2 linked regions of the Homo sapiens genome follow. The protein of the gene in region 1 purifies or fractionates together with the protein of each later gene. This does not show direct contact. Each region holds a gene or a part of one and is shown in the gene's direction. Other genes may lie near its edges.

Region 1 (3,829 bases):
CCCCCAACACCCCCTCCCGCCGCCCTCCCCTTCTCTCTCAAGTTTCTCAACTAGATTCATAAATCTTAGTGTTGCAAGACGAAGAACTCAAGACCTGCCTTCTAGGCATTTTACTTAATTACTTGGGGCGTGTAGTAGGAAGAAAAGTTACTAATAGAAAAGACTAGTACCTAGAATTAATAACCAACAAAAATCAGGAATGACTCTTTTTCTGCAGTTGATCCAAATTGTTTCTGGTAACATTGCCTGTATTTACAGAAAATACGTGGGTCTGGGAACACTGAACAAGTGCAGATTTCTTACTCCGGCTGGGTGGCCAAACTGGATGTGGTCCAATCTCTTAGAAAATCTGTCCTGTCCTTCACTGGGAAACAGACTGAAGGTTTAACGTTATTTTAGGATATGCAATGTATGTTTCTATTTATCCCTTGAAAATGAATAACCTCATATTGACCCATTATATTGACCTCCATTGATTTAGGAAATGGATATATTTTTTCTGCATTTAAAGGTATGCACTTAATGTAGCTTACTTAAGAGACCTTAAGTGCTTTAGCCAATACAATGTGCTAATTCCACTTTCTTTAGTATTTTAAATTAAAGTACTATAGTGAACTTTCCCAGTAACCTGATAGAACAACTTCAGGGATTTTTTTTTTTTAAGATGATAAATTCTGGGGAAATAAATCAAAGCTATTGAGACCAAACTAAATTCATTTTATGTAGGCATAAATTCCCAAACAATAGTATCATAAAAGCATTTTCCCCCAGAAAGTACCAAAGTACTGAAGGTGCTGTTTGACAGGCATTTTTTCCCTAAAGGATCCTCAGGAGATTTGTTATTCTATCAGCTTACTCTCTGGAGGCTGAGAGTCTTTTGAAGGGTGTTTCATAAGATTTCTGTTATATCCATTTGTGTTATAGACATGAATTGGGAGTGAAAAACTGTGCCGTTATTTCAGTGGAGGTGTAAACTCTTTTGAGCCCAAATGCCCTAAGTTTGGATTTTCAGCTGAACTTATGTTTCCATAAAGACAATGGGAAATAAGCGTAACCTAGAAATCTGAGTTGATATATTATCAAACCAAATTGATGCAAATATCAAATAACTATATTTTTATAGATTTTCATAGTCCCTTGCTTTTCCGTAGGCCCACATGTGAATATTCTGTACTTACTATGACTTCCAATTAAGCATACATTTTCTATTTAAGGCAAACTTTTAAAATTATGAAATATTACCGAAAATGGTGATTTTTATAATTAAGTCTATAATATTGTATTAAATCAATACTTGCCCCCACCTCCCAAAACTGATGCTACTGGAGAATTGCTAACGCTCTTATCTTTTGTAATTCGTTGTAACTACTTGGAAAAAGTAATACGCATGGGGAAACAAGTAGTAAAAACAAACACAGGCAAAAAAAAAAAAAATGACTTCTTCCCACCCAGACTCCCCTTGCACTGTCCTTCCCAGGAGTTGCTCACTGTTACAGTAGTTTCTAGTGAATTTAAGTGTATTGTAAGGTGTTTGATTTTACTGGAATAAATGCATACCATTCAATTTAAAATAAAACATTTAAGTGTATCCATCTGGTTGTAACTCTTTTATTCTAGGCATTACAAAGTGGTTTTTTTTCCCACTTAAAACACTTTCACTCAAGCCCTCTTGCTACATGGCTAGGAATGCATAGATGCTGCAATCCTGTGCTAGGATAACAGGTGTTACAAGGAGTGATGACAAGCAGGCAGGTTTAGGGAGATGGCCAAACATCCTTATGTACGAATGGATTAATCATTTGGAAACTTGCTTTTTTAATCAGTATAGACTGGGGGTGGGTAAAAGTGATTATATGAGTCAAGGTTAGTGTGCAACCCATGTTTTATATTCTTGACAAACCCAGCAGGTAGGGTCTCTGGAAATTATCTAGTTCTTACTTCAGTGGACAAAATGATGACGATTTCTCTGTTTAGGTGTGATTTCATTTTGGATTCAGCTTTGTATACTCACTGAGGTATGACTTTTTGTAATACTGTAATATTTCTGTTATGGTTATACAAACAGCATAATGTTTTTCTTTCTCTTTGTGATTGCTTGAATAGGATATCAAGCCAATGAGAGATCAAATTGTCAGAGTGAAGAGATATGAAAAAGTCCCACTAATCCTAGTAGGAAATAAAGTGGATCTGGAACCAGAAAGAGAGGTTATGTCTTCAGAAGGCAGAGCTCTGGCTCAAGAATGGGGCTGTCCTTTCATGGAGACATCGGCAAAAAGTAAATCAATGGTGGATGAACTTTTTGCTGAGATCGTCAGGCAAATGAACTATTCATCCCTGCCGGAGAAGCAAGATCAGTGTTGTACAACTTGTGTCGTCCAGTAAAGAAGATAACCTCAATCATGGCCATACCGAGCAGGTTAGTTTTTGATGGAACTGTATGAATCAGGTAGTGTTTTGTTTTTTGATCAAGTAAAACAAAAAGCTGGTTAGTGTTAATACATATGGCACTGCCTTAAATTTCTTTATTTTTAAAATAACATTTTCCATCACACAAAATAGTCAACATTCAATGAAGAAAATTTTTTTAAATGCAGATAAGCAAAGCGGAGATAAGAAATTGCTTATATTCCCATCACCAGGATTTTAAGTGAGTTATTGTTCTTCCTTCTCTGCTTTATTGGTAATATTTCTTTGGGTTGAGTTAAACCATAATACACTTTTTCCCTGTTCTTCTGATTTAGCATCCAGAATGCACAGGAGAGCACTGAGTAATAATTTCAGAAGTTTTGTGGTATTTTCTGTACTTTTATGTTTTTATGTCCTGAGCAAGCAAATTGCTGCAATTAAAATCACCAATTTACTAATCACCAAGTGCTTGATTAACAGTACAATTATTTAAGCAAATTCATCTGTACCTAACACTTGAGGGACTTAAGTGACCTCTGATAATAACAAATTATAGTGCCACAGTGTACCCTGACTTCATTATAAATATACGGTCCAAAAGATAATCTAGTTGAATTATCTGTGATGTGTTAGAAGGAACAGTTTCATGCATAAAAAAATTTATTCAATTTAATAAATTATGAGATTAATAGGAACAGTAACAAACCTTCAGGCCTTTCACTGAGTTAAATGATAACTTACAAGTTTTTTTTAATGAATGAGTTTTTTTTTAAAACTCATACTTTTTTAAAAGTAAGATTATGTAAAACTTACGAAGCATTTAAAACAAGATTATTTATGCCATGATCTTTTAGTCTAGATTGTAATTGAGCAAATAGTCTCACTTAGACAGTAACACTTAGATAATAAGATAAAACAACCAATATTGTGAATGACTGAGAAACCGCAGCAAATGCCAGACTAGCCTGACAGTATCAGGAATGAAATTGATCTTCCTGAGCCAAGGCTGACCTCGAGTCTAGGAGGCAGTGTTGCAAATGGCAACAGGCATTTCAGATTGGAGCAATGATTCCTAATCAAGGGTCTGGCTTTGTGTATGCTCCCCGGAGAAAAGACTAACGGTCCCTAATTTATCTTTTCAGACAAGGTCTCCTGTCAGATAGTGTCATCTTTGAAAATGAAGGATGACAACAATGCTTTATTTAAAATGCTTTCACTCATCAGCCTTTAGCATACCAGAATATGATGAAAACTCATTTATTTTCTTATGTCTAGCTACATCTATTATTTTATAAAGTCACTTTTCAGACCATAGTCCAGCTTGTGTTTGGTTGATAGCATTGTACTTGCAGTATAGTCTTTTGAGGAGGGGAGAGGCTTATGGATCAAGTCCCATATTCTTGCTGCTGTAATCTCTCTCCTT
Region 2 (3,829 bases), about 23 Mb from region 1:
GGTTTCGATCTCCTGACCTCAGGTGATTCGCCCACCTCGGCCTCCCAAAGTGCTGGGATTACAGGCGTGAGCCACCGCGCCCAGCCTTTTTTGTTATTTTTAAATTTGAGAGGACAAACTAGAGGACTAATTTGAGATTTTCTAGGTTTTTCCCTGTAATATAGACATTAGTATTTGCTGATTTTAGTCTGATTTTCCAAAATTGCAACTTAGAATAAATTTACTATTTAAAATAGAATATTTGGAGGTTTCTTATTACATTTATGTCTGTTTCTTTAAATATCTCAATCTAGTTAGGTATAAAAGTAAATATTTTCTTATTTAACGTATTACTTCTTGTAGGAAACTTTGAGGGAAATTTTGAGTCACTGGACCTTGCGGAATTTGCTAAGAAGCAGCCATGGTGGCGTAAGCTGTTCGGGCAGGAATCTGGACCTTCAGCAGAAAAGTATAGCGTGGCAACCCAGCTGTTCATTGGAGGTGTCACTGGATGGTAAGTGATGTGAAAGATGTCCACTGTCTTTTGTGCATGATTTAGTATTGCAGTTATAGGTACCATCATCTCCTTTAACCAGTGAAAACACATTGGCTTCTGTGAAATTGGTCACTTAATGTGGAGCATGTATCTAAACATCATCTTAAAGTACCATTTAATGGTTACACATAATGATTGTTTCCTATATGCCAGGTTCTGTTTGAAGTATTTACATAGATATCTCATTTCCTTCTCACAACTCTGGAATTAGTACTGTTATTTTCTATCCTCATTTTATAGAAACTGAGGCTCAGAAAGGTTAGTTTGCCCAAGGCCACATAGCTGGTAACTGGTAGAATAAGGAGCTAACTACTTATTAGCTATGTCAGATGATAACTTAATGTGACACAGCTTATGGTTTCATTTGTAATAAATTCAAAAAGTAATAGCAAATTTCATAGGTGAATATTGAATCCATTAATCTCATAGACTCTTTACATTTGAAAAATTTTATAGCACCATATAGCAAATATAGAACAGCACATTTAACAGGTGTACATTTTAGCAAATACTTGGAGTGAACACCTATGTAACAACTGCTAAGGTTAAAAAAAACGTGGCTAGCGCCCTAGAAACTCGAGAGGTTATTAAGCAGTTATTTCATTGCTTTTCTTTGTAGTTTTAACACCAGTTATGTCACTAAATAACATACTGTGGTTTACCTGCTTTCCACCTTAAAGTAAATGCAATCAGTATGTATTCTTTTGAGTCTTGCTTTTTTCGCTCAACCTGATGTTTCATATATTCAACTACATTGTGTATAGTTGTAGTTTCTTCACTTTCACTTGTATTTTGAGTTCCATTATGTGAATATACCACAGTATATCCAGTTGATGACTGATATTGGAGTTGTTTCCATTTTTGGCTAATACTATGCTTATATGAGTATTAGATTTCCCAGTGTATATGTGCATACATTTCTGTAGGGTCTGTACCTAGAAATTGCTAGGTAATGGGTATAGGTATCTTCAGCTTCACTAAATAATGTCAAACCACCTTCCAAAACTGTTTTTAACAGTTTACAGTCCCAGCAAGGACCAAATGAACCTGTTGTTCTACATGGTGGCACTTGATTTTGCCAGGCTATTAAATTTTTAAAAAATTAGTTAATTTTTCCTTAGCGAGGTAATCAAGTTAAATCCAGACTATAAAAATTTTACCAGTCTGGTAGTTAGGTAGTAGTATTTCATGGTGGCTTCATTTACATTTCCCTGAGTAGGAGTGACATTGATCGACTTTTACGTATGTTTGTTGACCATTTGGATCTCCTCTTTCAGTTCCACTCTAGTTTTTTTCCTCTGAAGTTGTCATTCTTTCCCTTGTTAAGCTGTAAGAGTTCTTTATATATTCTGAATATTCTCAGTCCTTTGTTAGTTGTGTGTATTATAGATATTTTCACTCATTCTGTGGTTATCTTTTCGTTTTATGGTATCTTTTGATGAACTGAAGATCTTATTTTTAATATAGTCAATTTTATCAATCTTAACCTTAATGGTTAGTGATTTTTGTGGCTTATTTAAGTAATCTTTGCCTACCCCATGTTTCAGAACTTTTATTATTTGACCTTTCACATTTAGATTTATTATCCACCTGGAATTGTTATTGTGCTCAGTATGTGGTAGATTCCTTCTTTTCTTCCCCATGTGGAATACCCATTTGTCCCAACTTAATTTATTGTGAAAGCTATCCCTTTCCCCGCTGCTTTATGTGAGTGTGTGTGCGCATGCATATGTGTGTGTCTGCTATCTTGTTCTTTAGGAACATCTTGGCTATTTTCTTTATCTCTTAGTTTTTAAATTTAATAAATAGGTATATTATAAGTTGCACATATTTAAAGTATAAAATTTGATACATTTTTACATATGTACATGCCCATAAAACCATCACCACAGTCAAGATAATGAACATACCTATCACTTCAAAAGCTGCTTTGTACCTCTTTGTAATTCCACGCTCTTTCCTTCATGCCATCCTCCCGCCACTGATCTGCTTTCTATTACTATAGATTATGTTTTCTAGATTCTTTTTAGAAGTGGAATTACATAGTATATATTCTTTTTTGTCTGGCTTCTCTTATTCACCATAATAATATATTTTTTTGTTTTGAGACGGAGTCTTGCTCTGTTGCCCAGACTGGAGTGCAGTGGCACGATCTTGGCTCACCGCCTCCTGGGTTCAAGCAGTTCTCCTGCATCAGCCTTCACCATAATAATTTTGAGATAATCTGTGCTTTTCTGTTTATCAACAGTTCATTCCTTTTTATTGCTAAGTAGTACTCCATTGTATGGATGTACCACAATCTGTTTCTCCATCCACCTTTGATGGACATTTGAGTTTTTTTTTCACTTTTTAGCTGTTACAGATAAAACTTCAAGTTTGTATACAAGTGTACAAGTCTTTGTATGAACATATGCTTTCATTTCTTTTGGGTAAATATCTAGGAATAGTATGGCTGAGTCACGTAGTAAGTGAATGTTCTAAATTTACAAGTACCTGCCAGTTTTTAAAGTGCCTGTACCATCTTACATCTCCACCAGCAATGTGTGAGGGTTCCAGTTCCTCTGCATCCTTACTAACACTTGGTATTATCTTTTTGATTACGAACATCTTAGTGGGTATGAAGTTGTATCTCATTGTGGTTTGAATTTGCGTTTCTCTAATGACTAATGATGTTGAGCATTTTCACGGGCTTATTTTTTGCCATTCATATATCTTTGATGACTTATTTGTTCAAATCTTTTTCCACATATTTTTATTGGGTTGTTGGTTTTCTTTCACTGCTGAATCGTGAGAGTTCTTTAAATATTCTGGATAGAAGTCTTAGATATGTGATTTGCAAATATATTACTTCTCTGTAGCTTTTCATTATCTGAACTGTACCTTTCAAAGAGCAGAAGTTCTTAATCTTGAAGTGCAGCTCTTTTGTAGCTCCAGCTTTTGGTGTCATGTCTGAGAATATTTGCCTAATCCAGGGTCACCAAGATTTTCTCTCGCTTTTTCTAGATTGTATATAGGTTCGGATTTTATATTTAGTTCTGTGATCCATTTTGATTTACTTTTTGTATATAGTATAAGGTAGGAATCCAAGTTTTTTTTGCGTATGGGTATCTAGTTGTCCCCACATTTGTAAAAAAAAGACTGTCTTTTTCTCCACTGAATTGTCTTTACACCTATGTTGAAAATCAGTTGACTATATGTTTTTGAGCTCTTTGTACTGCCAAATTGATCTAGGTGCCATTATCATGCTGTTTTGATTACTGTAACTTAGGTAATGCAAGTCTTGAAATTTTGTTT

What was found.
Region 2: the proteins of RAP2C (region 1) and FUNDC2 purify together in Homo sapiens (co-immunoprecipitation; one large-scale study listed by IntAct). This does not show direct contact.

Annotation. Positions count from the first base shown.
Region 1 is NC_000023.11:132,212,721-132,216,549, reverse strand, and holds part of RAP2C (ras-related protein Rap-2c isoform 1 precursor), read left to right. Parts: intron 1-1,974; exon of another isoform or gene 1,975-2,015; intron 2,016-2,103; coding exon 2,104-2,382; 3' UTR 2,383-2,416; intron 2,417-2,594; exon of another isoform or gene 2,595-2,647; intron 2,648-3,829. UniProt on the Homo sapiens protein: Small GTP-binding protein which cycles between a GDP-bound inactive and a GTP-bound active form. May play a role in cytoskeletal rearrangements and regulate cell spreading through activation of the effector TNIK.
Region 2 is NC_000023.11:155,033,061-155,036,889, forward strand, and holds part of FUNDC2 (FUN14 domain-containing protein 2), read left to right. Parts: intron 1-342; coding exon 343-493; intron 494-3,829. UniProt on the Homo sapiens protein: Binds directly and specifically 1,2-Diacyl-sn-glycero-3-phospho-(1'-myo-inositol-3',4',5'-bisphosphate) (PIP3) leading to the recruitment of PIP3 to mitochondria and may play a role in the regulation of the platelet activation via AKT/GSK3B/cGMP signaling pathways.